Linked DNA regions of Homo sapiens. The protein of the gene in region 2 interacts with the protein of the main gene of each other region in a biochemical or structural test. Each region holds a gene or a part of one and is shown on either strand. Other genes may lie near its edges. The genes, in order: UBA1, UBE2A, RAD18 and RNF20.

The links.
Region 1: of the proteins of UBE2A (region 2) and UBA1, one has a biochemical effect on the other in vitro, tested with the Homo sapiens proteins (6 studies listed by BioGRID, with this or other methods).
Region 3: the proteins of UBE2A (region 2) and RAD18 form a complex in vitro, tested with the Homo sapiens proteins (12 studies listed by BioGRID, with this or other methods).
Region 4: the proteins of UBE2A (region 2) and RNF20 form a complex in vitro, tested with the Homo sapiens proteins (4 studies listed by BioGRID, with this or other methods).

What each region holds. Positions count from the first base shown.
Region 1 is NC_000023.11:47,189,804-47,196,833, reverse strand, and holds the start of UBA1 (ubiquitin-like modifier-activating enzyme 1), read right to left. Parts: upstream 3,006-7,030; 5' UTR 2,810-3,005; exon of another isoform or gene 402-2,809; coding exon of another isoform or gene 365-401; exon of another isoform or gene 1-364. UniProt on the Homo sapiens protein: Catalyzes the first step in ubiquitin conjugation to mark cellular proteins for degradation through the ubiquitin-proteasome system.
Region 2 is NC_000023.11:119,570,208-119,577,563, reverse strand, and holds the start of UBE2A (ubiquitin-conjugating enzyme E2 A), read right to left. Parts: upstream 3,002-7,356; 5' UTR 2,853-3,001; coding exon 2,809-2,852; intron 2,664-2,808; coding exon 2,583-2,663; intron 2,190-2,582; coding exon 2,164-2,189; intron 1-2,163. UniProt on the Homo sapiens protein: E2 ubiquitin-conjugating enzyme that accepts ubiquitin from the ubiquitin-activating enzyme E1 and transfers it to a E3 ubiquitin-protein ligase. In vitro catalyzes 'Lys-11', as well as 'Lys-48'-linked polyubiquitination.
Region 3 is NC_000003.12:8,960,458-8,967,661, forward strand, and holds the start of RAD18 (E3 ubiquitin-protein ligase RAD18), read right to left. Parts: upstream 3,016-7,204; 5' UTR 2,929-3,015; coding exon 2,878-2,928; intron 1-2,877. UniProt on the Homo sapiens protein: E3 ubiquitin-protein ligase involved in postreplication repair of UV-damaged DNA. Postreplication repair functions in gap-filling of a daughter strand on replication of damaged DNA.
Region 4 is NC_000009.12:101,529,049-101,536,855, reverse strand, and holds the start of RNF20 (E3 ubiquitin-protein ligase BRE1A), read right to left. Parts: upstream 3,004-7,807; 5' UTR 2,942-3,003; exon of another isoform or gene 2,556-2,941; intron 1,459-2,555; 5' UTR 1,433-1,458; coding exon 1,304-1,432; intron 1-1,303. UniProt on the Homo sapiens protein: Component of the RNF20/40 E3 ubiquitin-protein ligase complex that mediates monoubiquitination of 'Lys-120' of histone H2B (H2BK120ub1).

The DNA.
Region 1 (7,030 bases), about 72 Mb from region 2:
TCATTGGTCAGTTTGTTTGGGACATGCCATTTCCTCACTCCATAAATTAGAGATGATCCAGGGCCAGAGAGCACTTTAATATCTGGACATTTCACCTCTGGATCCCCAGTGCAGGCAGCAAGAGTCTAAGAAGTTTCAGATGATTGTTCAAGTGGATTTTGACTGCAAAGGTTTGGAACAGCCCTGTCTCAAGGCAAGCAGGAGTCTGGGACAGAAACTCTGCAGAGGAGCTAAAGATCCCCCACCCCCAGCAGAAAAACAATCTACACCCTTCCTACCTCAACATTTGCTCAGGCCCCCACCATAACATACACACTGTGAACTGTTTGGCAAAGCTGAGCTGTGGCTTAGTTTCTAAACATACCTGAGTCTCCAAACTGAAGATTTTCAAGCGTAAGCATTCTCTATTCCCAAACCAGAGGGTTTGAGGGAGGAGTCTTGGAGGTGTGAGAGGAGGCAGGTTAGCAGGATGGAGAAGCTAGGGCATAGAGAAGGGGGGCTGGAGCATGTCAAGCTTTCTGGGAGGGGTTAACTGAGAAGTCCATGGGAACGTGAGAGGAGAATCAGGAAGTGGGTGTCTAAGAGCAAGGAGGCTCTGAGACAAATGGGAAAGGAGATGTTAGAAGTCCTGGGAGGGAAAGGACTAGGCTAGGGTATTAGGAAAAGACTCAAATTCGGATCTCTGGAAAAGGATCTTTTGGAGAAAGGCTGAAAAATTGCAGTGGAGGCCCCCAAGGCTGCAAGGAGGTAGGAGGACAGTTGCTGGGCCCCATGGAAGCTGCAAAGGGAATGGGTGGGGGATTCTAGAGTCTGAGGAGGCAGCAGGAAGATGTTGGGGTCTGGGGGGAGAGGCAGCCTCCATCAGGAGGATGTTGAGGCTCTGGAGGACTCTGGAGACAGATGCTGGTAGCAGAGAGAAATCTTTAACCAAAAATAATAGATAGGGACATGCAAGAGGAGAGGTGTATCTGACATTCCTACTACAGAGTCCCAGGAGGCTGTGAGGGTGGATGGTGAGGGGCTGGGAGAGGTTTCTAATGGAACACAAAGGCCCTGTGTCAATCTCTGACAGGACATGCTAGGTATCACAGCTGCTCTGAGGGTGTGGAAACGGGAAGCTGGGCCCAGATAGTGCAGGCCTTAAAAAGGTTAATAAGCAAACACTGGCTAGGTCCCCAAATGGGGTTGGGTTTCTCTGACCAATTATGTAGGACCCCATGGAGGCGCTGAAGGTAGATGCTGAGAAGAGGGTTTTCTACTGCAGTAGAAAACAAGAGGGCCATGGCCAGGCGCGGTGGCTCACGCCTGCAATCCCAGCACTTTGGGAGGCCGAGGCAGGTGGATCACCTGAGGTCAGGAGTTCGAGACCAGCCTGGGCAATATGGTGAAACCCCATCTCTACTAAAAATACAAAAAATTAGCCAGGCGTGGTGGTGCATGCCTGTAATCCCAGCTACTCGGGAGGCTGAGGCAGGAGAATCGCTTGAACCCAGGAGGTGGAGGTTGCAGTGAGCTGAGATGGCGCCACTGCACTCCAGCCTGGACGACATAGTGAAACAATTCTGTCTCGGAAAAAAGAAAAAGAAAAAGAAAACAAGAAGGCCTGTGGGGGGAAGGGACATCTGACAATGATCCTGGGGTCCAAGGAGGCTGAAAGCAGAAGCTGAAAACCCCTGACTGCAGACGTTAGGGACCTTGAAACGATCTGAGGGCAGATTCTGAGGCCTGATGTGAGGATAAGGGATCTGTGAAAAAAGCAGCTAGAACCCAGGTTGGTTTTTGAAGGCAGAGGCTGGGTCTAGGGTGGGGTTGGGGAGGCGAGTCTCTGATGGAAGGGGCTAGAAGCCAACGGGATCTGCAAGAGCAGATGCTCGCAGGGGCTCTTTGATGGAGGATTATGTATCCAAACAGTTCCTCCCTGGTATCTGGTGCACTGGAAGGCTCTGGGGGTTCAAGGTGCCTGATGGGGAAGATGCTGAGGCCTCTCAGTAGTCTCTGAATACTGGAAGTATAAAAAGCGAGAAATTCCATAAAAGTAGAGAAAGTGTCAAAGGACAGAGTCTAGGAATTGAAGAGTCTCTCAAGGCAGATGGTAAGAGGGGTCTCTGAGTAGAAATACTGGGCAGAGTCTCTGATGGAAGATGCTAGGGCCAGGGTGGGGTTAGGAGACCTGACGTGTGGCGAAGAGGGGCCCCCGACACAAAGGCCAGGCCCAAATGGCCTTTCACAGGGTCTAGTACCCCTGGAAGCTCTGAGCGCGGCTAGCATGTGTGTGGGATGGGGGTCTGAAGGAAAATGCTAAAGAGGACTCTCTTACAGAGATAAAGGGCCTATGGACCCCTTCGAGATCTAGCCCGTCCTGGAAGCCTTGAGGACAAATACTGAGAAGCTAGGAAGTGTCTCAAAGGAGATTCTGGGGCAGGTCTTTAACGGCATTCAATGGTGAGGAGCTCTGATCAGCAATGCTGATCCACGTAAATCTCTATTGGAGACTGGGGAAGAGTTCTGATCTGAGATACAAGGTTCGGGACGGAGTCAGGTCCCAGACTAGAGATGTTGGGCGTGAGTCTCTAAAAGCACATCCTGGGGGTCCGACTCCAAGGTCAGATTTTGCAACCAGAGGGAGCCGGAGTGGTCCTGGCCGGGGAAAGTCGGCCCCGCCCCAGGATCCGCTCCCCCTCCCTACTCCGCTGATTCCTGGCTCCCGAGTCACCGCGGCCCGCCCCGACAGCAGCGTGGCTCAGGGCCCTCCAGTGCCTCCCCGAAACCCCTGCCCAGGGCGAGGCGCAGTGAAAGGACGTTTTTTTACCAATGCCGGTTCCCCGGGTCGCGCCGCCGCCAACTCCTCAAGGAGCCGAAGCCAAGCCCGGCCGCCACCCTCCTCCTTCTCCTCCTCCCCGCCGCCTGGGCCGCCTAGAATCGCCGCTGCCGCCTTCTCCTCCCCCGGCCGTTGTGGTTGTGGTTGTCCCTGCCACCTCCTTACAGCCGAGCCGCCGACACAAGATGGCGGACGCTGAGCCTGGGGCCGGAACAAAACCTTGGGCCCCACCCCCAGAAACCCGGATGCAAGCGGGCCGCGCCTACTTATGAATCATGCATAAAGTTCCCTACTCGGTTGCGATTCATTCGGTTAGAAGTGGAACAGCACCACCTGGTGGACATTGTGGCAGTAACAACGAAAACAGGTAAAACAGAGGCCACGCCTCATGGAATGCGACTAATGAATGAATTGTTGCAGCCAGGCTGTCAAGGAAGCGAAGAAAAACCGTTAAGGCCATGCTTCCTGATTATAAGTTATGCATGAAGTTGAGTGGTTGGTAGACTAACAACCAGCAACCAGAAAGCAGATGTTAAAACATGGAAGCCACACACCCCCATTCATGAATAATGATGATCTTGCAGGGGCCCGGAAGCCAAGGAGACCCAGGCCACAACTTACTCATGAATAATGCATGAGGCCCAGTGGGTTGGAATAAAAGGGGCACGCCCGCCTATTGCTGCATCTAATACACTGTAAGCAGGGAAATGGGGCTGCTGCAGGGAAAACACACTCTCCCAGGTCCTGAATAATGAATTATGCTGCTGCAGTAGCTCAACCTGGAAACTCAGAGAGGTCAAGAAAGGTTCCACCCAATTTATGAATTATGCATAAGGCGAAGAAACACCCAAGACTGCCCTGCCCAGCAAATAGGGATTACGATGCTATAGCCAAGGCAAAGTGAGCACGCCTTCCTGTTCATGAATAATGAAAGATGTCACTGCAGTGCCACCAGAAAACCCAGGGGACGTGTACTCCCTGCCCCCACCTCCCCTCTCCACGCCTCCCTCCATTCTCCCCGCCTCAGGAACAAGGGCTGCCTTGGTCCAATCAAACCCAAACTCACTACATGTCTTTGGCAGGTGCCTCAGTTTCCACAACTGTAAAATGAGGATAGTAATGTGTTATTATGAAAATCAGATGACGCCTGTAATCCCAGCACTTTAGGAGGCCGAGGCGGGTGGATCACCTGAGGTCAGGAATTGGAGACCAGCCTGGCCAAGATGGTGAAACCCTGTCTCTACTAAAAATACAAAAATTAGCTGGGCATGTTGGCGGGCGCCTGTAATCCCAGCTACTGGGGAGGCTGAGGCAGGAGAATCGCTTGAACTCGGGAAGCAGAGGTTGCAGTCAGCCGAGATCGCGCCATTGCACTCCAGCTTGGGCGACAAGAGAGAAACTCCGTCTCAAACAAAAGAAAATCAGAGAATATAAATTATGGGATGAGCCTTAGAACATTGCTGGCACAAGGCACTGTTAAATTTTTAAAATATTATATATTAATATAAAAGTAATATGTTAAGATATGTAAATATATATTTACATTAATATAAAATTAGTTATGAATACTCAGCCACTAGAGAAACCCCCAACTTGGGCCACTGCTTCCCCATCCATAAAATAGGAATAACAGCAACTTACCTTGCGATGGAGTTTAAATGAAGAAATAAGTAGAAAGGGCTTAGACCAGTGCCTGGCACATGCTAAGTGTTATATTAGTAGTAGTAGTACTATCAAATGGCGGCGCAGGGGAATGGGGAGGGGAGACATTATGGCATCTGGTTAAGACTACAGATTGCGGAACTAGACCCCAATTTGAATCCCGGCCCAGCCACTCACTGATTGTGTGACCTTAGGCAAATTACTTAGCCTTCCTGTGTCCCAGTTTCCTTATCTATAAAGTGGGGGTAATAATGACCTACCTCCTAGGATTGTCGTGAAGATTAAATGCGCTAAGTAGCTAAACGAGTGTAAGCTAATCTTATCGTTATCCTCATACCCATTATTCAGGCTTACAAAACGATTTGCCAAAGATCACACAACTGGAAAGGATCGATGGGATTTGAATCCAGAGCCGGCTGATTATCTGGGATTACCAGGCCATAAGAAATGAACAATGTAGGAGGCCTCATCCCTTTGCTAGACGCCAGGTTTTAACTCTGGTACCTGCAAGGGAAAGCTAACCGCGGATCACGCAGACAAAGCTGCAAAAGCCACGCTCCTCATGAATTAAGCACGGAACCCCTAGAAAAGCCACTGAAAACTCAGGGTGCTACTTAACTTTTGCGAATCATCAATGAACTCGTTTGCGCGGCAGACTTCAGAACGCCCCTTCAGCACGTCCCTTCGGCACGCTGATCCGCCCCTCGTGAATAATTCACAAGCCGAGAACCTTCAGCGGACCAGGTGCGAAAGAGGCAAAAAAACTGCCGCCTACCACAGCCCCACCTTATTATGAATAATGAATAAAGGCCGGGTGGCGCCTCGTCAGCTCAGGAAGAGCTGGGCTCCGGTGTCCCTTCCCTAGCCTGAGCTGGGAGGCTCCTCTCCCTAGAAACATCTGGGCCCCCGACGTGTCCAGTCTCGCAGTCCTGAGCCTCCAGGCGCGGGGAGGACCTCATCACAAAACCAGAGGTCACAAAGGCCTGACACCTCCACAATGCCACGTCGGTCCCGATTGTTCTGTCACCAGGACCCCGTCCTGAAACAAGCCCTCCCCCAGTCCCGCCTTGACTTTAGTAACCTCAAGCTTTGCTTCTCCCCTTGAAGAATAACCCAAATCCTGCTCCACGGACAAGGGTGCCCATACACGGACCCTAAGAATCTCCCCAAAGCCCCCCAAACCCTGCCTCCGAGGGGTGCTCCCCGAAACAGACTCCCAAATCCCACCCCGAAGTCCCCAAACGGCACCCCTTAAGGGTCTCAAAAGCAGACGCCCCCTAAATATCACCCCGGGCCCGGAGGCTCCAAATACGCCCATGAGGGGTTTCCCCGAAGTTGGGATTAGGGAAGCACCCTCCTCCAAATGCTGTCCAGAGGCTTGGGGGCACGGTGCTCCAGCTCACCCCCTGTGCCGGGCGGAAGCCTCGCCTTCCTGCCAAAGATGAGCTGAAGCCACGGGGCAACGGAAGAGCAAACCACCTCTGTCGTACAAGAGAAGCCAGAGTTTGCGCGGAGCTCGGAAGCGCGGGGCCTTGGAGAGCCCCGGGTCTGGGATGTACCACAGATGCTTTGCTAGAGGGGCGTCAGTCCCTGCTCCCGCGTCGCTGGTGCCCGTTTCAGACCCAGATGACCCTACAGGTTGTGGTACGGCCCAAATGCGCGCGGCATGCTGGGGGTGGTAGTTCTGTCTGGCCAGTGCCTGGTGCACGTGGTGGGCACCAGCGTCCAGAATATGGGAAAATGTAAGCCTGAGCTGTGGAATTGCCGGAGCCGTGCTCTGTAGGGTGGGAAGAGGAAACGGAACGTGTGGGTGCCTCCACATGGAAAGGCACACCCATCCTACAGATGGGGAGACCGAGACTCAGGTGGCCAAAAAAGTTCATTTGACATGGGCCAGGTGCTGGAAATTCTTCCTTGGGCTCATGGAGCTGACATTCTAGCAAGATACACAGACCATAAACATAACAATAAGTAAAATTATAGTTTCACATACAAACCCGTATTATAATAGATATCTGTGACTATATACAGTAATATAAATTATGGATATACAATCATGTGCTGCATAACATTTTGGTCAACGGTCCTATAACACAGAAAAAATTTTACTGTTATCTTTTCTATGTTTACATGTTACCATAGTGGAGACGGGATTTCGCCACGTTAGCCAGACTGGACTAGAGCTCCTGAGCTCAGGCGATACCGCCCGCTCGGCCTCCCAAAGTGCTGGGACTATAGGCGCGAGCCGCCGCGCCTGGCAAAATTCTTTAGCCTTTTAATAAATGGAGTCTTGGCCGGGCGCGGCGGCTCACGCCTATAATCCCATCACTTTGGCAGGCTGAGGCAGGATGATTGCTTGAGCCCAGGAGTTCAAGACCAGCCTGGGCAACAAAGTGAGACCCCCCCACGCCCCAACATACACACACACACACCCCACCACCACCACCTGGTCTCCACAAAAAATCAAAGAATTAGCTGGGCATAGTGGGGTGCATCTGTGGTCCCACAGTGAGCCCTGTGGAGGCAGGAAAATAGACAAAGGAGAGGGAG
Region 2 (7,356 bases):
AGACTGTTCAACAGAACAAATCAGCCTGAGTAATTCCTTTCAGTAATGCTAGGATGGAGATACACATCATCAAAAATAGAACCAGTAATGTCAAAGGTGACAGTCCTGGTAGATAATGGACTCTGTAAGTACCTTTTCAATTCATACCACTTAAGAGAAGCACCCTTGAAATATTTAGGTAGCCAATCCCCAGCAAAGTGATGTACTATTAATAAAGCTGTGCCCAGCATAAAACAGAGTAAAACGAGGAAAAAAGAAGCCAATGAAAACAAGGCCTACTAGAGCTAAAGCAAACACAGTTAATCTGTACATTTAAAGCTCAGGTATAAAGAACTAGTGCTCGCCGGGTGCGGTGGCTCAAGCCTGTAGTCCCAGCACTTTGGGAGGCCAAGGCGGGTGGATCCCAAGGTCAGGAGTTTGAGACCAGCCTGGCCAACATGGTGAAACCCCGTCTCTACTAAAGATACAAAAAATTAGCCGGGCGCGGTGTCGCACACCTGTAATCCCAGCTACTCAGGAGGCTGAGGCAGGAGAATCGCTTGAACCTGGGAGGCGGAGGTTGCAGTGAGCCGAGATCACACCATCGCACTCCAGCCTGGGTGACAGGGCGCAACTCCGTCTCAAAAAAACAAAAACAAAAAACAAACAAACAAAAAAACTAGTGCCAATCTGGTAGAAGAAAATTAAGTCTAGCTATAGTTTTTTGCTACAAATCAGTTCAAATGATTAACTGCGCCAAAGTAGTATGCCCTTACAATCACTGTTTCCTGCTGTCATTTCTTTTCTTTGCAGCCCTGAAGAGTAATGATATTTACCCAGGGGGTAAAGGTAAAGAGGAAGCTAAAAATATTCAGGTGACTGTCCACAGTTTCCTGGGGAAATCTAAGTACTTGAGATGAATTACAGACTTAGTTGAAATTGACTTACCTCACAACATTTTGTGGACTGGTAGCATCAAAAAGCAATCCGGCTCAGCAACATAAGTATGTATTAAGTAGTTTGCAGAAATGTTTTTGTTCCCACCTTCAAACTGAAGTGTGTGTGTGTGTGTGTGTGTGTATAAATGCTATGTGACCGAAGGAAATCATTGAGGAAAAAAATAACAGAAAGATCCTTTTCCTTTTTTTTAAAACCTCAAATATTAAAGAATTTCATGAGTTCAAATACTTTAATCATCCTTTAAATGTATTAAACTTTCAAAAAACAACCACACACACACACAACTGAGTGTAGAACTATCAGTGTCATTTTTCCGGTTGTGATAGGGTCTAGTCATTCAAGATGTTACCAAATGGGAGGGTTTGGGTAGAGGACTGGGTTAAGGGTATAAAGGGTGTCTCTATTATTTCTTGCAACTGCATATGAATCTATAATTATCTAAAATCAGAAAGTTTTTAAAAAGCAATTTACACGTGTTTTTAAAAGTTAAACCTAAATCAATTAAAAATTATGTACCTACTGGTACATGTAGTACTTTCAGGTAGGCAGGACACTGATCAAAAGGGTACATTAAGGCTAACTTCAATTGTGAAGCTGCTTTGAAATTACTCATCATAACGTCTTGATGAAAGCACACACTGCAAATTCACTTAAAAATAAGAAAGAATACTGTACTCAAATGAGGCATTTAAGACCATCTTAGAGCAGTGAGGCTGACAGGCATTCAATGTCAGATTGTAGAAACCAGACAGTTGTACGCAAGGGATTCTCGCATCCACTCAACATCCAACACACATCTACCAAGCACCTGCTGAACACAACTCCTGCCCTTGGGGTAGAATTCTGAACCAGATGGTCTCTGGGGTCTCTGCTGCCTATCAGCAACTGGTTGGGTTTATACTAATTCAGTGATGGAGGGCTGAATTTAGCAGAATTACAGCCCAAGCCTCAAAAATCCTTAATACCAGTGCTATGATTGCTCCTTTTAAAAAGTGACTGCCTTACACAGATTTTTTTTTTAAGAAAGCAAGAAGAAAGGTGCAGTTCTAGTCAAGCATACAATATCCAGAACCACCAGCCACACACTGCATTCCACTCAAGCCTTTAGCAGACAGAGGCTAGGCAGAGGCAGGTTCCTAAGCAGGAGACACTTCCAGGATGACTGGGAACCCTTTCCCCAGATGACCAGGCTCCTGAAAAGTGGGTAAAGAAACTCTCTCTTACCATCCTCAAACGGGGTCCCTTCAGGCCTGCAACACAGAGAAAAATGGTCAGTTCCCACTTAAGGGGCCCCCTTCTCCCTGCTTCATCTGAGATGGCTATCCCGAGCTCTGCCATCTCCAGCACCGCTACCGGGGTCGGAAGCCACTACAAATGGATGTCCCGGGCTCAGAGACACAGGGCAAGCCGCCGCGCCTAACCGCCACCACTCCCCGCCCCGCCCCCCTAGAACCCCAAGCGGTTCCCCCTGGCAGCGGGAACTGAGCTAATCGAGGCACAGGCTCCGGGGAGGCGCCTAGGCCCAGCCAGACCCAAACATTTTCCCCTACCCGCTCGGCCTCCGCGGGGGGCCCGCCCCGGAGCGCAGACCGAAGCTGCTCGCGTCCCCAGTTTTCTCGCCACCGCCACGAACGCAGACTCACCCGAAAATGACCGCGTTCCACACCATTATGTTGTTCTCGGACGGAGCCCCGCTGACTCCGGCTGGAGGATCCTCCTGCAACCTTCGGGAAGACAGACAGGGGTCCCCCTAGGCCGGCACTGGCGCCCGCTCCCGGCCGCTCCCCAGCCCTCCCCGCCCGGCGCGCCTCGGGACCCGCCCTGTGCCCCAGCTCGCAACCCCCGGCCTCGGCCGTCCCCTCGGTTTACCTCTTGAAGTCCCGCATGAGGCGCCGCCGAGCCGGGGTGGACATGTCGCGAGCGGGGTCAGGGGTGGGGCATACACTGGGGTCTCGGGTTCCCGCGGCGGGCGAGGAGGCCGAAGAGGCTGGAGAAGCAGGAGAAGGGGAGGCGGAAGCACCCAGAGGAACCGCGCTGCCTCTCCGAAGTCGAGGGTCGGTCTGGCGCCGGCTAAGCACCACCCCAGTGTAGACGGGGGCTGAACCAACCTGAGAGCAGAGAGAGGGGGGTGGAACGTCGAGCGCCGGACAGGCCGTACCAAGACGGGGCGGGGGGTGCGCGAGGAAAGTTGCTTATGTCATTAAAGCCCCACGGGAGGCCCGGGGCGGGGCCGCGAGCGCAGAGGCGTAGGGTACGCCGGAGCCCCGGGCGCTGGAGGAGCTCGTGGTGGAACGGGGTCCATCCCCACCTGCTAATTCTAAGGCAAACCCTGGGAAGTTTTCGGCTTTTTTTCTTTTTCTCTTTTTTTCTTTTTCTATTCGTTTTTGTTTGTTTTGTGACCAGATCATTCATGAAAGCGCGCACTATGCCCGGGGAGGAGAGGGGAGAAGTTTGGAAGTCCCAAACTAGAGGACGAAGGAGTGGGCGGAGGTAAAACCGGTTCTCAAAAAGCGGCAACTCTAGGGTGCACAACCCCTTCGGACACCGGAGACTGGGGTCGGAGGGGTGGGGAGAGGAGTGATTGGTTAAAATCACGGAAAATCAAAAGAATAAATCGGCCTTGACTATGACGGGGGGGCGGGGCGGGGCTGTGGGATTGAATGCAGGATTGGGCGCTCAACGTTTAGGCCAATGATCACCCCAGGGCAGAATGAAATAGTGTTGTATGTCCTGTGGGAGGGAATGGGAGCTTAAGGCAGGCGGAGTAGGGTTTTGTTTTGTTCTGTTTTGTTTTGGGCACTCACAATTTGGCTCTGGAACCACATTTCCCCTTGGTAGTTCAACAAGCCAAGCGGCTATTTATGTTCAGAAGAGTCCAAGATATGAGACTATCCGACTGCAGGGAGTTGCAAGGACAGTGGGTCTGAAGTAAAAGGAACGTGGAAAAGCTGCAGGTTGCAGGAAGAGTCACAGTCCGTGGACCTGCAAAAGCAATAACAGTTTTAAAGGATAATTTTTAAAGGTCAACCCAAAATAACTTAGAAGATAGGCATAATACACATTTAAAAATTATTGAAAATAGGAGAAAGGTAGATTTGGGTTAAGTCATCAAGAGTTTTGAATGCCAAGCTAATGGATTCCTTGGAAGTCCATTGAGCAGGGAAGTGACATCATTAGAGCTGTCCTTATCAGAGATTGGTCTCAAGAGAGCAGGCAGGAGACTCTTGCAGTATCTAGGTGCGAGATACTGAAGCAGGCAGTGACAATAAAGGCGAGGATATGAATGAATGGGGAGGACTTGGCAACAGGCTGAATATGGGGCAAGAGAGAGGAAGGAGTCAACAGTGGCTGAAACTCTAAGCCCCGAGATAACTGGGGTTTTGAAGGTGCCATTAACAGAATTACAGAATAGAGAGAGAGGGACAAGTTTGGAAAAGGAAATTTTGGGTGGGACTTACTGAGTTCATGGGACTGGTGAGACATCCCCGTGAAGATGTCCAGAAGATATCAGATGTGCAGGAATTTGTTTCTAACATGAGAAGCAGGAGGCACTTGACAATGGTAGTGATTCTAGCTGCTGCTTAACAACAGGTACTTTCATGGTCAAGGATTTCTATCTCCCATTAACTCCAACATATCAGTTAAGGCAAGTCTCCCTAATAGCATCACATTATGGCTGTAGTAGGAAGGGGGTACAAAAATTAAAAAAAAAAAACTTTTTTTCCTCTCATCTAAGAACTTGCAGTCTACTAACACACACATACACACATATGAAATCAACAAAAGCAAGATCTACAAAAGCAAGTATATTCGTTTTCATCACTGCTTAACAAATTACAAGTTGTTGGCCAAGCCCAGTTCATTGCAGTTGTAGGACTTTGGTCCCTATTTCCTTACTAGCTGCCACCTGGGAACTACTCTCAGCTCCTAGAGGCCGCCTGCATTCCTTGCCAAGTGGCCTACTCCATCTTCAAAGTCATCAACAGAGAATTTCTCTCCCACCACATCCCTCTCACTCTTTGAATCTTGTTTTCAGGAAGAGCACAGTCTACTTTAAAGGCTTATCAGATTATGTCAGGCCCACCCCATGGATAATTTCCCTATGTTAAAAACATCTAAGTTGGGACCTTTATTATGTCTGCTAAATTTTTTCACTGCAGAACCTAGATTAGTATTTCATTTAATAACTGGGAGAAAGTGTGTGTATATACCAAGGACCAAGAATCTCAGGGGAGGGTAGCATCTTAGAAGTCTGCCTACGACAGCAACAGCAGAACCAGAACGGTTTCAGATTTCCTTTTTTTTTTTTTTTTTTTTTCAGATTTTGGAATTATTTGCATTATAAAAGTTTCAGGTTTTGGAGCATTTCGGATTTTAGATTTTCAGATTTGAGATCCTCAACTTGTAGAAGTGTGTGAAACCACAGATGCTGAGAGATTGCACAGCAGAGGAATCGTCATTCTGGTGGGATCAGGACAAGCTTCCTGAAATGGGTGTATTTCAATTTTGTTTCAACAGAGATGAAAGCGGAGCTTGAGAGAGAAGAACTTAAGCAGTTTATATGGGGGCAATGGCACAGACAAGGGCATGGAGCTAAACCCGTGGGCAGATGAGCTTGGCTAATGGACAGGTTCTTGGCTGGGGAATGATGAGACCTCAGCTAGGAAAAGTGAGGGTGACAGAAGTTGATTAAATGCCCTCAAATGCGAGAATGGGGAATTTAGGCAGCTTTTATAGGTGTTTGAGCATGAGAGAGATGTATTGAAAATATCCTGGCCGGGCGCGGTGTCTCACACCTGTAATCCCAGCACTTTGGGAGGCCAAGGCAGGTGGATCACGAGGTCAGGAGATCAAGACCATCCTGGCTAACATGGTGAAACCCCGTCTCCACTAAAAATACAAAAAATTCTCCGGGCGTGGTGGTGGGCGCCTGTAGTCCCAGCTACTCTGGAGGCTGAGGCAGGAGAATGGCGTGAGCCCGGGAGGTGGAGCTTGCAGTGAGCAGAGATCGCGCCACTGCACTCCAGCCTGGGCGACAGAGCAAGACTCCATCTCAAAAAAAAAAAAGAAAAAAAAGAAAAAAAAGAAAATATCCTTTTGAGGCCAGGCATGGTGGCTCACGCCTATAATCCCAGCACTTGGGAGGCCGAGGCAGGTAGATCACCTGAGGTCAGGAGTTCAAGACTAACCTGGCCAACATGAGGTAACCCCATCTCTACTAAAAATACAAAAAAATTAGCTGGGCGTGGTGGTGAGGACCTGTAGTTCGAGCTACTCGGGAGGCTGAGACAGAAGAATCGCTGGAACCCAGGAGGCGGAGGTTGCAGTGAGCGGAGGTCATGCCACTACACTCCAGCCTGGGCGACACGACCAGACAAAAAAAAAAGAGAAAGAAAAAGAAAATACCCTATTAAGAAGCGGCATGTACCGTACTAAAAAGTATGAAAGGGACTGAGAAGCTCCTGCTACTGGATATACATGTCTGAAATTTATTGAAGGATATAGATGTATGTAAGTTTGTTGTGAGCTTGTCTGTTTTTTGAAACCCCCTTTCTCTTCCTTTCTTGGACTTTCTTCCTTTCAAGAAAACTAAGGGCTGGGCTCAGTGGCTCAAGCCTGCAATCCCAGCACTTGGGGAGGCCAAGTGGATCACCTGAGGTCAGGAGTTTGAGACCAGCCTGACCAACATGGAGAAACCCCGTCTCTACTAAAAATACAAAATTAACCGGGCATGGTGGTGCATGCCTATAATCCCAGCTATTCCAGAGGCTGAAGCAGGAGAATTGCTTGAACCCGGGAGGCGGAGGTTACAGGGAGCTGAGATCGCACCATTGCACTCCAGCCTGGGCAACAAGAGCGAAACTCCGTCTCAGAAAACAAAACACAAACAAACAAACAAAAAAACTCAGGAGCATGACCCAAATGGTTGGAAGCCCCCTGGCACCTGCATGGGAGTAGCATTCTCTGACTAAGGAATGAAACTGCATTGCAGGAACACCGTGCCCCCACATTCCTCAGCAGAAGCAGGGTTGTCATAGCAAGCAGCAATACAGAAGATTGTTTTCCAGCATGATGATTATCAGGCTAGAACATACTAACTTTAGCACAGTTTGGCCAAGCATTCTTTCTACCCTTTTTTCACCTTGACATCTTGAAGAAATACCCTCTTCACAGCCAAGCACCACCCCTACCCAAGAGCAGGGGTCCAGAAAGGATAAGTCTCCTCAATTTAAAGAAAAGTGGGCTGGGCACAGTGGCTCATGCCTGTAATCCCAGCATTTTGGGAGGTGGAGGTGGGAGGATCGCTTGAAGTGAGGAGTTTGAGATCAGTCTGGGCAAAAATGCAAGACTTGTCTCAAAAAAACCAAAAAAATTGTGAAATTTCATTCATGAAGATTTCAACATGAAAAATAGATT
Region 3 (7,204 bases), on a different chromosome or scaffold from region 2:
AACCTATTACCTGAATTTTAAAAATGTAAACAAAAAAGGACTAATGTCGCTAATGGTCCATATGATGAAATATTATGCAGCCATTAAAAAACATGCTTTCAAAGAATAATTAATGCCCTAGGAAAATAAAAATCAGAAAACAAACCTATGCCAATAATACATAATAATAACAACTCTGTAGTTTAATCTTCATAGCAATCTTATGAAGTCCACAGCATCAGTATCCCAATTTTAAAAATAAAGTCTACAGAGTTCCTAAGTTGGCTGGATCAAACCCAAGAAGTTGACTCCACAGTGATCCCAAATTTTAAATGCACAAAAACCAAAGGAAAATAAGGTAAAATGTTAAACACTGGTTCTCTGGGTGGTAGAATTATGGATGGTTTTATTTTTCTCCTTTATCTTATTCTGAATTTTAATTTTTTTCTACCGTGTACACATATTACATTTACAATATGCCAAAAACAGTAAATTTTTGTTAAAGTAAAACCAGGGAAATAATAAAATGCCAAAATCTTCCATTATTGTGGATGGTAAGCTGTCACAGACACAAAAATCTAAAGGGTTATGTTCAAGATCAATTAAGAGCAGAGGCAGGCCCAGAAGCCAGAACCAGTCTATTATATCACACTTTCTTATCTATGCCATCCTCTTCTGGTGGAGGAATGATTCTGAAAGATCTGCAGAGCACAATTGTGGAAGTTGACACTACATCAGATGAGCCATTTCTGGTTCAAATTTCTTGTCATGTCACTCCAAGACAGTAACATGCATATCACATGCGCCTCAACCAACTAAACAAAAAATGATGCCTGAATAGAGAGTGGTCAGCAGACTCCCCAAAATTTCTTTAGTTTAGAGAGAGAGAAAGTGAAAGGGAGAAGTAGAAAATGGGTGGAAAAACGTAATAATTACAAAAATACTCTTAAGTTTTTGGGGTTACAGATCCCTTTGAAAAATGGATGACAACTATGGACTCTCTGCTCAGAAAAACATACATGCAAAAATTTTACAAATAACTTGAGACTCCAAAGTCTTTCTGTGAATCCTAAGTTAGCAACCATGGATTCTGAGTCAGACTTCTATTCAATAAAAGAAGTAACTTCAGTCAGATCTGCTTCTGGGATCTGATAGTTCTTTGTGCCTGGAAGAGTTCAAGCAAAAATTAGGTGAGAAATTGGCAGATGTGTTATAAAGGAGATTAAAATACTGAAAGGGGCTGGTTTTCTAACCTTAAGATTCCATGATTCCAATGTGAGCAAAAAAATACGGGCTCAATCAACTCTCTGGTTGAACACTCACTGAACGCTCTGTGGTGCCAAACTCTACATTCAGTGCTGTGGTGAGATACCAAAGTCAGAGAAGACATGGAACCCGCCTCTAAAGAACACTGAAATTGTGGGAATATGTAAAGTGTGCTTAAATCTACAAAGCAGGAGCTTTACAGGTTACAGAGCTCTTTTACTTTCCTTATCCAAGTCAAGCTTCATGACAACAAATTAAAAGGGGAAAGAAGCACTTAACACAGTGCTAATAATAATAAAATATATTCATTGAATGCTTACTACATTCCAGATACTTTCAATCAAGCAGCAAATAATATTTGAGCACCCACTTGGTGTCAGGCACTGCAGTAAGCACAGTGAATACACAGCAGAATCTGTGCCCACATACATCAACTAATTTATTTAATCAATCCTATGAACTGTTATTTTTGTCTCTAATTTATAGTTGAAGAAATTCAGGCTCAGAGAGGTTAAGTTACTAACCGAAGGTCATACAGTCAAGAGGCAGACAGGAGATTTCACCCAGGACCACTGGAACTCAAATCTGTGCTCTTCTCCACTGCATCCTGGTGCCAAGCCCACAACTCCAAAACTACAGCTTTCCTGGATCATTTCACAATGTCAGCTTCTCATCATGCAGATATCTCAAGTCCCCAAGCACTCTAGACGTCACTGATGACAGCAGGAAGAACAAGGCCTTCTACTTACTTTAGCCTTCACTTAATTCTAAAGTCAAATTTATGAGTCAGTGGGACAGGTATTATAATCCCCAAGTCTACAAAACTGAGGGAGAAGAAGGCTATCTTAGCCACTGTGAGAAACGGAAATAATCACAGAGCAAGAAGAAACACCAAGCAACTGATCTTTATCCAGCACAGCAAAGTGCATCTGCTCTTGAGCAAATCCAGGGCCCACCACTACTGTAAATGGAAACTGGTATGCCTTGCCAAAACAGAAAGTGGCCACAAAAATAAATGTTATTTAAGTGAAATAATCAGACGCAATGCAAGATCAGCGCTGAGCCTGAGTCCTGATCTCTGTTTAAGAGACATGAGCAATTGTTAGAGAAGAGTGAAGGTGTGTTAGAGAGGAGTTGGGGCAGTATGTCAGAACAAACGAGCACTACGTTTATTGAGAATAATCAGAAGAAATGAAAGAGCCTGTAAAGGAGACTACCTGCTTGGCTACGTGATTACATACATGTTATCTGATAAAGTGTCCACCCAAAATCATGTCCGGTGTCACTGTTTAGTGCTTGACACAAAGTAAGCTTTCAGTAAAGAACAGCTGTCGATGTCATTGTTTGGAATAACTGTTTTTCTCCATGTTATTGTTGGGATTGGATCGCAGAATAGCTGGTGCCATAAGACTGCCAACCTCAGCTCACCAGGCTTGTCCTTGTCACTTATCAGAGGAGTAAACTGAGACCCAGAGCCACGCGGTCGGCTAGTGGCAGGGCAGAGCCGGATACCCGGGCCCAGTGCGACGCTCGCGCCTCATCCTTTCTCCTTAAGGCGAGGACATCCTCCTCAAAGGGAGGGACCTCCCCCCGCAGACACCCGGGAGCTCCCAAACTCCCCGAAGCACTCACCTTCATGACTGCCAGGCCCGGAGGCCACCGAGACTCGGCCAGGGAGTCCATGGTCGCTCCCGAGGATGCTGGGGGTCAGCCACCCACTAGCCTCCGGCGCTCCAACACCACTCGAAATTCCCCGCGCTACCGCATTACGTCAGCAGCCCGCGACGCGCCAGAGGCGGGCGCGGAGCCTGCCGGAAGTTGTAGTAGTATGTGGGCGGGGCGCCGCTTAAGGGCTTGTACTGCGCATGCGCCAGGCTTCTGCCGCACTTACCTTGAAGAAAGTGAATGGTTAAAAAGCGTAGAGCCAGTTGAATATTAAGAAAAGATAGCCAGGAATCAAACCAAATCCAGACCTCACCAGATCTGTCAAGGTCCAGGCTCATGACCCCCCTCCGGGTCGCCCACCCTAATCGCAGTGACTATCCGTCCTTGCTCTGAACAGAAGTTTTTATATCCATTACTTTATGTCTCCCGTATCACAACACTGGGAGGTAGATGTTATCATTGTCAGTTTACACAAGAGAAGCCTACGCCCGAAAAAGTGGATAGAGTTTCGAGTCAGATTCCAAACAGGACCTCTGGGCTTTAAATGGGAGCTGTTGCTTTTATTCATATTAAAATTTTAATGCACGGTTTTTCTTTTTCTTCGGAGAGAAGCACCATTAACTTTGGCATATAGCCTTCTAGATATTTCCTATGCAGATTGACGAAGATTCTTTGCTTGAGCAAACTTTAGTCAGGCTCCTGAACCTTCTCCTAGGCCAATCTGTGTACTTCCTGTAAAAATCCAGTTTTAGCAAAAAACCCTGCTAAATCAAGTTACCAAGAATCCCCACCTTTGATATGTGATCACTCTTGATATCTGATGTGTTCCTCATCCTCCACCATCCCCCAGTTGATGTCTGATCACCCTGGCCTCTTCAGCAAGAATCTACTGTTACCTCTGATGTTTCCTCTTAGTAATTTTTCATGCACTGCTCCCCACCCTGCTTCCTGGCTATAAATTTCCATTTGCCCATGTTGTATTCAGAGTTGAGCCCAGTTTTCACCAATTGCAAGACACAGTTCCAGTGGTCTCTATACCTACTTGAATTGTCCTGATTAAGTCTTCCTTATTGTGCTTTAACAAGTATCATTGAACAATTTTTTTCTTAAACGAGATATAAATATAGATACTTTTTTTCATACATGTTATATTAAATGCATGAGGAATGGAGGTTTACGGTGTCCACCCCCGCCCCCCACTTTGTATCAGCCAATCATAGAACGGCATGCAAATGAACGCAAATGAATGCCAGGCTGAGCTGGAAAATGTCGGATAGTTCTGGATGTGGAGGAAGTGGGGTCTTGGAGAGACAAAGGAAAAGCATTTAAGACCAGGTCCGTGGCCTGAGTGAACCAGTAATTGTTTTTTTCACACTACTAGTTGGACAAGGTAATTAGGTTTAAGGTGACAAATGGCTGGGAAGGTGAGAGAGGAAGAGAGAGGAGATGAGAAAAAAGAGAAAGAATGGGTAAGGAGAAAGGGAGAGAGAGAAAAGACAGGGACAGGAATGTACTTTTTGCATTCAACCATGGAGACAGATTTGGAAGGAGGCAGTACTTGTTAGTCCTGGGGCCAAAATACATTTCCCTATCTATGGAGAGCCTCCAGGACAGGATGCGGTGCCATTCATCTCTGAGTGTCTGCCAATAGCTGGTGGGTGAGGCTGAATGAATGGATGAATCACCGACTAAGCCCACATTCCCATAAATCTTTTCCTCCCAGGCTGAGCATTTCTCTTCCTGCCATCTTCAGCAGCACCAGGGTGATAGATCCCATCAAGCCCACCTCTAGGCCCAGGAAGGAAAGTTCAAGAACAAGCGCACTTTGAGCTCAGGAAAAGGCGTTTGTCTTGGGTGTTTATCTAACCCTGGGAGCCATTCTCCTCTTAACAAGCTGCTGTTTGTATGGACTTTCTCCTTCTGTTAGATCAATAAAGAGATTGTACTTCCTTATTCAGGACTAAAAACAAAATGTTCCATGTAAAATAAAAGCAGGCTAGTGTTTAGTGGAATCTTCTGTGGCACATAGCACACAGCGAGAAGCCAGAATAGGATGGCCAGATAAAATACAAGTTGCCCAGTAAATCTGAATTTCAGATGAACCGCACACAACATTTTAGTGTAAACCTGCCCCAAATATTGCACACAACCTATTAACCAATTATTTGTTGTTTAACCAGAAATTCAAATATTTAACTGGGCATCCTGTATTTTTATTTGCCAAATCTGACAACCCTAATTAGAGAAGCATTCTCCCAACTGAGTGTGGGGCCTGCCCTGGATTAACCTGGGGATGTCCTGTGGCCCCTGAGCTCCTTTCCAGGTTCTCTTCATCCTGTTCCTCTCTGCCCAGCACTCTCTCTTCCTCTAGGCCCCATCTTCCTCATTCTAGTTATGGGAGAGGGGATATTAAAGGAGCTCCCTCCCTCCCTTTCCTTCCTTCCTTTCTTCCTCCCTTCCTTCGTTCCTTCTTTCCTTCCTTCCTTCCTTATTTTTTTTCTTCCTTCCTCCCTGCCTCCATCTCTCCCTTCCTCCATTCATTTTAACAAATGTTTATTGAGCCACTCTCCACTTGTACCAGGTGCTAGAATACAGAGGTGAGTAAGACAGATATGGCCTCTGTTCTCCAGGAGCTGGCAGCCTGGGGGTGAGCATGGAGCCAGGATAAAAAAAAAGAGAGTTTGTAAAAAAATGAGTAAGATAATTGCATAAAACAGTAACTGATGTAAAAACAATAAAAAAGGGTGATAAAATGGACAGAGGAGGGGACACTGTAAATTGTATGATCTGGGAGGCTCCCTCTGAGGAAGTGATATATGGGCAGAGACCCAACTGATAGAGAGAGGCAGCCATGCAAAGACCCAAAGACCCCAGAAGTGGAGAGTTCCATGCCTTAGTAAAAAGTTCAGATTTTAATCCATGTTAACTTGGGTAAGTTGTTGACCTCTCTGTGCCTCAATTTTCTCATCTGCAAAATGGGGATAATATTAGTATTTGCCTTGTAGGGATAATTAAAGGAGTTATTCTAGGTTTAATGCCTAGAAGGGTGCCTGGCAACTACTAAGCCCTGTGTGAGTGTCAGCTGTCATTAATATTATGTTGCTATAAGCACAGGGGGGAAGTCCTTAGAGGCTTTAGGCAGGGGTGTAATTTACATTTTCCAAAGGTCATTCTAGCTGCTGGGTGAAGAAGGGATCAAAGTGGAAAGTGTACAGTAGAAGAAGGTGACAGGGACTGAACCTTGGTGGCACAGTCCGGGTGAGGTAAAAGTGCTGTGGACCTCACACTTACTGTGGACCCCAGTTCTAGGAAGCAGGCCCTGCTGTGTCCTTGTGACCAGGCCCCTATCTTGACTCCTCCCAGACATGGACCCTGCCTTATTCTCTCCCTCCCAGCCCTGGGACAGCTAGGTCTTGTTTACACTTACAGACTGTGCCCATTACCCCGTCCACCTGCCTGTCAGACCACCATCACCTCTGGGAGCTTCTCACTGAGGCCAGCTACCTGTCTGTCACCAAAGCCTCTTCTTAGGAGGAGTCCCAACCCCTCCTATTGATCCTTCAAACAAGTGTTTGCTGAGCACCTACTATATGCCCAAGCAGAGGTGACAAGTACACTAGACAGAGGAATGCCCAGTCCAAGTCAAGGTCTGCAGATGGGAAGAGCTTTGAGATCAGACAGGAAGAACTTTTAAGGGAGGGAACTGTATTAGGACTTTTTGGTTCAAAGTGCTGAATTAGAAAGCTAACTCAAAATGGCCTAAGCAAGAAAGGCAGTGTGTTAGCTCATGTAACTGAAAAGACCTGAGGTAGGTATTCAGGTATGGCTTGATCCAGGTGGTCTCTCTTCTTCCCTCTCAATTACTCTTTCTTCTTTTTTTTTTTTTTTTTTTGAGACGGAGTCTAACTGTGTCGCCCATGCTGGAGTGCAGTGGTGTAATCTCAGCTCACTGCAACCTCTGTCTCCTGGGTTCAAGCGATTATCCTGCTTCAGCCTCCCTACTGGGACAACAGGCGTGTGCCACCATGCCCAACTAATTCTTGTGTATTTTTAGTAGAGACGGGGTTTCACCATATTGGTTAGGCTGGTCTTGAACTCCTGACCTCGTGAACTCCCAGCCTCAGCCTTCCAAAGTGCTGGGATTACAGGCGTGAGCCACCGCGCCTGGCCATAATCACTCTTTCTTAATGCCTTATATCTTCTTCCCTCACTGTCGACTTAACGCTCATGCAGGCTCCCCCCATGAGAGGCAAACATGGCTCCAGAAGCTCCAGGCCTGCATTCTATTAGCACA
Region 4 (7,807 bases), on a different chromosome or scaffold from region 2:
CAAACACAAGTCAGAGCATGTTAGTCTCCTACTTAAGACTATCCACTAACTCCTCATTGCCTCTGGATAAAGTCCACACTGGGGTGTGTGCTATGTGCTTCCCATAAGTATGTGCTTATCCCTGTCAACAGCACATACCCCACTCTAAACAGTCTATTCCCTTGTCAGTGCTACCCTACAAACTAAAGTCTAGGGGCTGTCTTCAGTGTAAAGGATAGTGTCTGGCAAATAACAAATACTCAACAAATATTTATATATTGAGTGAATAAATGCCTTTGGAATGCATGATGCAAGGCAGTGCTAAAACAAAAATCACTTCCTGCCAGCAATATTAAGTACCAGAACCTCAGGCAGCCTCAGAAATGACACTTCATCAACAACTCACTATGAATGTTCCTATTATTCTGACTCAAAAAAAAAAATCAGCCTCTCTAAAATAAACCTCAGCCTCAAAATCAAATAAGCAATAGATGTGGTTTTGCAAGCCATACAAATGTAAAGCATTTTACAAAATGTAAAACATTTTAATATCACATCCCCATGTCTGATTTTCAAAAAAGCAAAATCTTGACGTAGATCAAAACCTGTAAACTTCTGATGTCTAACAGATATATAACATTACTATGAGATTTTGGTATATAATACTCATTTTGTCAGCTCCATAAGAGCAAGGATAATATCTATGTTATGCACCATTATATTATCTAGCCCAATATTAGCTATGAATGCCTCCCATTTATTGACTATTTACTATATTAAATGCAAAGTGTTAGCCCTTAACAGGGACTCTTATTTTATATGCATAAAAATCTAATGTAGCAGGTACTCTAATTACATTTTACAGACAAGAAAACAGGCAAAGGAAGGATAACACAAGGTCAGCCAGCTAGGAAGTGGTACAGCTCAGAGTCAACTCCAGGCAATCTGGTCTCAGACTCTCACTCTTCACCATACTCTCAATGATTGCTAAACTGTCTCTTAGAATCTGGTACTGACTTTTTCAGTGAATGAAAAATAAATGTGTATCTTCCCACTGCTAAATACCTATAGTTAATGTTGTATCAGGCACCACCTTCCCAGATTCTCGAAAGAATATAAGTACACCTTGAAAACAAAGAACAACTATCAATCTACCTCTCCTCTAGAACTGACTACCACATCATTTTACCTACTTTCAGCCTGTTTTATTTCCCTCTTCTTTTCAAATAGCTTCCCCATACTCCAGAAAGCTTCCATGAATTTTTAGTTTCAAGTTGCAACTGACAGAAGACAAGCACACTTTCATGGCACTGTTTCCTCATACCGTTGAAGAGACACCTCCTAGCTTAATTGTTTCCACTGTGGTCCCTGAATCTTCAACAGCTGCCTTCTTCTCAGGAGGCATGGAGGTGCCAGGTTCTCCAGCTGCTCTTTTATTTCCAATTCCTGACATTTTGGCAGAAGAAGACAGTCGTTTTCCTGATAGAAAAAAAGGCAGAAACTGACATAATATATGTAAGCAAAGCAACAATAGAGTAAAACAATAGAGTAAAAACTAGCAACTTTTCTGGCCAACCCTTTAACCTGGATCCATTAATTCCACAACCATCTCCATATTTCTCTTTGAGGAAAAAAAAAAAAAATTAAATTGTAGAGTAAAAGTCAAGGCGGGCCGGGCGCGGTGGCTCATGTCTGTAATCCCAGCACTTTGGGAGGCCGAGGCGGGCGGATCAAGAGGTCAGAAGATCGAGACCATCCTGCCTAACACGGTGAAACCCCGTCTCTACTAAAAATACAAAAAATTAGCCAGGCGTGGTGGCGGGCGCCGGTAGTCCCAGCTACTCGGGAGGCTAAGGCAGGAGAATCACTTGAACCCGGGAGGCGGAGCTTGCAGTGAGCCGAGATCGCACCACAGCACTCCAGCCTGGGCAACAGAGCGGGACTCCGTCTCAAAAAAAAAAAAAAAAGAAAGTCAAGGCTAAATTTACATGACTATAAATTTCTAAATAGGATGGTGATAAGAATGGTGATAAGAAATGAGACAATGGGCAAAGGGTGAAGAGACCAAAAATAAAGTTCTGGAATCTCTCTTCCTGTAATGCCAAAATCAGAAAAGGGCAGTTTGATTATGCCAGAAGTTAATACTACAGTGTTGAAAGAATCACAGAGCTGAAAGAGATCTGTGAAATGCCTACTAAAGTCATTAGTACTAGACAAGTCAGTTATCATCTCTAAGCCTCAGTTTCCTAACCCAGGAATAAATAACCACAGTATATACTTCCTATGCTTATTATAAAATAAAATGGATGATATAATTATAGAAAGAATTTGGCACAAAGCCGAACACAAAGTAAGCACTCAGAAACCCCAGCTCTTCTTTAACGTTTGCAGTGTTTTCCCTATTTCCAAACGCTCTCTCCACTGTTTTATGCAACCCTACGTTAGTTAGACCTGGGTGCGAATTTCAGTTCTGCCTGTTAGAGGCCGTGTTGCTTTGAAACAGTGAATTCGCCAAGAGCTTCAGTTTCCTCAACTGCACAATATTAACGAATATATTTTTCGTCTGCCCTGCCTACCTCCCAGGGTGCTCAAAGGAGGCGGAATGGATGCTAAAGCACTTTGGCTACTTCAGGAAACAACGCAGCCATCACCGAGACTAACAAGACTACTCTGCTTCCAATTCAAGCTCCAGGAGAGGACTATCGCTGGCAACAACCTCAGTAGGACCTCGCCTGGAGAGAGAAGACACAGAAGCAGAACAAGGCTGCAATCCAACTCGCTAAAAGCCAAAGACCTCAGCCTCAGCGTGGATAATTGCAGGCCCAGGAGACTGACGGCCCCAAAACTGGAGAGGGTGGAGACTCCTGAGGCCTGGCACAGTCCTGTTGGGCCCTAAGCGTGATCTAACCTAAGTTCTTTGAACTGGCGCCGCGCGGGAACAGAACTCGCAGCAGTTACTCACCAAGGCCCGTGCAGAGATTCCAGCTCTCACCCCTGACCCGCGGCGGAGACAAGGCAGAACTTCCGGGAGGCGGGGCCACGGAGAGGAAAAAGGGAAAGAAAAAAGGAAGTGGCTTCAACCCAGCCCATAGGACTATGAGACCCCGCCGGGCGGAAGTGACGTACGGAGAGGGCACGAGAAGCTTGAGCAAGCGCCGCCTCCCTAGCAACGCTGGGCAAGCGCGGGACCCTCTCCTGGCTACGACCTCTAAGAGTACTCGGGCCTCGCTGATGCCTGACGGAGAGCCCTTGGCTTTTGTTGACTTGTTGACCTTTGCTACTGCGATCTGGTCTTTCTGCGGGGATAAAGTTCCTCATTCTGTTGCTTGTCATTGGGGTTGCCATCACTCGTTCAGACGGCCGATTGGCTGACGGTCCCGTCAATCTCCGGGGACATGACTAGCCTCAGACACCTCAGAAAATTGTTCGTTGGTACCCCTACGTGCTGAAATGAAGAGTTCTGGAGAGAATCTGAGGGATTTGAGGAATTTCAGATGTTGGGGATTTTTTCCCCCGCACAGGGAGCGGTATTCTGCCCTGTCTACACATTAGAATCACTTGGCCTGGACAAAAGCTTTTTTAAAAAAGCGTTCCCCTCATCTCCTCCCCCCAAACCCCGCATTTCCATCCACTAGATTCTAATGCGTAAGCAGGAGTGACAACTACTGCCCTTGTGCTTTTTTGGGAACAAGAAATTGTCCAGGGAAAAGATAAACGCCAATCAGTCTCTGATCTCAGTACTAGTCTATTTTAAGCTAATTAAGCATTGATTTTTTTTTTTAAGTTTATGACAAACTGCTATTTTCCATTCAGTTAAACTAAATGCGTTTTAATGATAGGACGGTAATTAATCTAACCTATTAATGAAAAGCTGTATGTCTCGCAGAACTATGATAAACTACCTAATGACGTCAGCTAAGGGTCTAGAAATGGAAGAATGATCGCTATATCTTTTTTAAAAAATAGAATTTAGGCATCTTGGGAAAAAAAGAAGCTAATCTACACTGGATTTCTGTTAGTGTGAAGACTTTTGTCCCTGTACCTGCTAGGGCTTACCTGTAAATGAAGTAAGATGGTCAACACCAGGGAAACAAGTGTTCCTGGTGCCTGGCAGTGGAACACCTTGACTATCTTGGAAAGAATTAACTGGCCCCAAGTGGACTTCACATTTCATTCCGTGAAGTGGGAGCCTGAGAACATGTGAGTGGGGACACACCTGCCGAAAAGCATTGTATGAGACAATGACACTCATTCTCTCATCTTCTTTGGTTCCTCTACTCTTAGCAAGCCTTTCATTCATAGAACTACTGAATGGCAAGTAATGGTTTTTCTAGCCCAGAAAACTAGAGGTTCACAGACTGCATTTAGCCAACAGTTATGCTTTGTTTATTTTAGACAGTATTGGCTGTCCTGCGTGGTTAAAAACAAGAACAAAAATGAACTTAGTTGCCAACATTTAAAATATGGCTATTTTACATAAAAATCCAAATTATCAGTTTCTCTAAAAAATGTTGATGATCTTGCAACAGAAGGGTTATATTTTTGCATGGTCACATTGCTTAGAGCAAAGTAGTGGCTTCTTCTTTTTTTTTTTTTTTCTTTTTTTCGAGACAGAGTCTTACTCTGTCACCCAGGCTGGAGTGCAGTGGCACAATCTCGGCTCACTGCAAACTCCACCTCACAGGTTCAAGCAATTCCCATGCCTCAGCCTCCCAAGTGGGTGGGATCACAGGCACACGCCACCACACCTGGCTAATTTTTGTATTTTTAGTAGAGATGGGGTTTCGCCATGTTGGCTAGGCCGGTCTCAAACTCCTGACCTCGGACGATCCATCCACCTCAGCCTCCCAAAGTGCTGAGATTACAGGCCTGAGCCACAGCTACTGGCAATGAGCCACCACGCTTGGCGTGGCTCTCTTTTATTAATAGATCATGTTATTCTTGTTTACCATAATCCCCACTAATCTTTACTGGTTCCTTAGCACTAGTATAGTTTAATTTGAGTATCATCACTTGTGTGTTACATTGTGATAAATCAATTGCTGGTACTACGTAAGTGTCTGGTGGACATTATTGGTGATCTACCCAACAGCTATTCCCCTTCCCTCACCTTAGCAGAACCAGGATTTTTTTCATGTATCCATATAGCACTTTGATTCCATTAAGTCTTAGGGAAAACTGATTTCACCCCAATCTCCAAGGATTGTCTTAAATACTAAGTTCCATTTCCCAAGCCAAAGTCCTAGTCAGCAATTGACACTTTAATCAGGGTGAATTTCTTTGAATACTAGAATTGAAGCAGATTTTTATCTTCCAGATTTTCTGTGTGAGGCTGAAACTGTTGGAGGCTTCCTGAGATCATTCTTGAGAATGGAGCGACCACATAGGGGTGAGCAGAACCAAGAGAATCTCAGGGAAATGGAGCCAATCAACTGAGTTAGGTCACCCCTAACTTCAACCCACACTTGAGTGTTAGAGAAGATTCTACAAAGAGAGCAGACTTTTCTAGTACCTTTCAATTCTCACCATGTAGGTAACCATATTCTCTAGCAACTGGGATATATGTCTTTCTCAAAAGTTCCAGTTATCTAACACCTTCACAGGTGTCACAGCTCTCCAGAAAATAAAATCAACTCTGTGTGTGTGTGTGTGTGTGTGTGTGTGTGTGTGTGTGTGTGTGTAGAAAGAGATTTGAGAAAGAGAGAGAGGGACATTATAAGGAATTGGTTCACAGGATTGTGGTGGCTGGATAAACCAAAATCTACAAGGCAGGTTTGCAACCTGGAGCCCCAGGAAAGATTTGCAGTTTAAGTCTAAAGGCAGTCTGCTGGCAGAATTCATTCTTGCTCAGGGGAGGTTAGTCTTTGTTCTATTAAGGCTCTCAACTGATTGGATGAGGCCTACCTACATTTTGGAGGGTAATCTGCTTTAGTCTACCAATTTAAATATTAATCTCATCCAAAAAAACAAACAAACAAACAAACAAACAAAAACACCTTCACAGAATCATCCAGAATAATGTTTCACCAACTATTTGGGCACAGTGGCCCAGCGAAATTGACACATAAAATTAACCATCATAGTAGGTAACCATATTCTGCAGCTACTGGTGAGATCTGTCTTTTCTGAGCACCTCAGTCAGCCATCTGACATCTTCAAAGTAGCCTGTCTCACTCTAGCGAATTGGGAAAATAGAATAGATGAAGAGGAGGATGGCAGAGATCTCTCTCATTGAATGCATTCCCCATTCATTTCTGACCAGCCACCTTCTGTTCACCATCTTAATCAAGAGAAAAAGGAATATCCCTGGAAAAATAAGTTTTTCCCTCACTTATAAATGGGAAAACAGCATTAGCAATGATAAAAAGAATACTTAATATTTTATTTCACTTTTAAAGTCTCATTGCTTGTATCAAAAACATAATTTAAGCAAATAGTAATCTTTTTTAAAAGGAGAAAACAGACTCAGATTTTAAGTGATTTTTTTTTTCAAATGATGACTTAATGAGTATTTGTTGAAGGACCCAAGTCATTCGACCTCCAGCCGGTCTTCATTAACTACCCAATTCTGCCACAAGGTGGCATAAGGCGACACGCCTCTTTACCCAGTTCCCTTTCTAAAGCTTTGGTTGCACAGTACTGCGCATCAGTCATGTCCTGTCTTCACCCTAACTCTTAGAAACTTGGACAACTACTGAGGGTAGGCTTAATGCTCTCAAAATGGACAAAATTAAGATATTTTGGATTTTTGTTTATTGTTTTTTTCTACACTGCTTTACAAATGTTTTGTTCTAAGATTGTTATATCTCCAGGCATTCCAATATTCCATGAAATCTGGATTGGATTGTATGCCAGACATAATTCAGGAACTCCCTTATTTTAAACAAGTTGTATTTTACTTAGCATGGTATCACTCGTTAAACAGAAACATTTAGATACCATAGCCCTTGCTCTAGACTTGCTGAATCAGAATTTCCGGGGGAAAGCTCTCTGAAAATGCAAGTTCTTACTTTTGTAATTATGCTTCCTATCTGGGCACATTTAAGGAACACTGCTCTAGGTAATGATGTCCAGGTCCACCTGGGAGTGTCCTACAAAAACGAGCCCCCTCCTCTTGTCCTCACCTTTCCCTTCTCCTACCATTCACCCTCGCCACACCTTTCTCCTTCATTTCCATACCCCTGCCTCCTTCTCCCCAGATCACCTGGCCCACTATACTACATCATACTCAGCCCTCTTACTTTGTAATTTCTGGGGACCAGGGAGGTGGCTTACTCAGGGGAGCTAGAGCCAGGTCTGCCTTTTTTAAAGAGTGAGGACAAGGTGTCCTAACAGTCTATGGAAACGTGAGAGCTAATTGGTAGTCACAAATTGTCAGAGGAGCCCCATTTAGTTTAATGCTCTCTTAAAAAGCTGAGAGAAGGCCGGGCGCGGTGGCTTATGCCTGTAATCCCAGCACTTTGGGAGGCCAAGGCGGGCGGATCACCTGATGTCAGGAGTTCAAGACCAGCCTGGCCAACATGGTGAAACCCTGTCCCTACTAAAAATACAAAATTAGCTGGGCATGGTGGTGGTCGCCTGTAATTCCAGCTACTCGGGAGGCTGAGGCAGGAGAATCACTTGAACCCAGGAGGCAAAGGTTGCAGTGAGCCGAGATCACACCATTGCACTCCAGCCTGGGCAAAAAGAGTGAAACTCCATTTCAAGAAAAAAAAAAAAAAAAGCCGAGAGACACCATGCAGCTATAAAAAAAGAATGACATCATGTCATTTGCAGGGACATGGATGCAGCTGAAGGCCATTATCCTTAGCAAACTAACACAGGAACA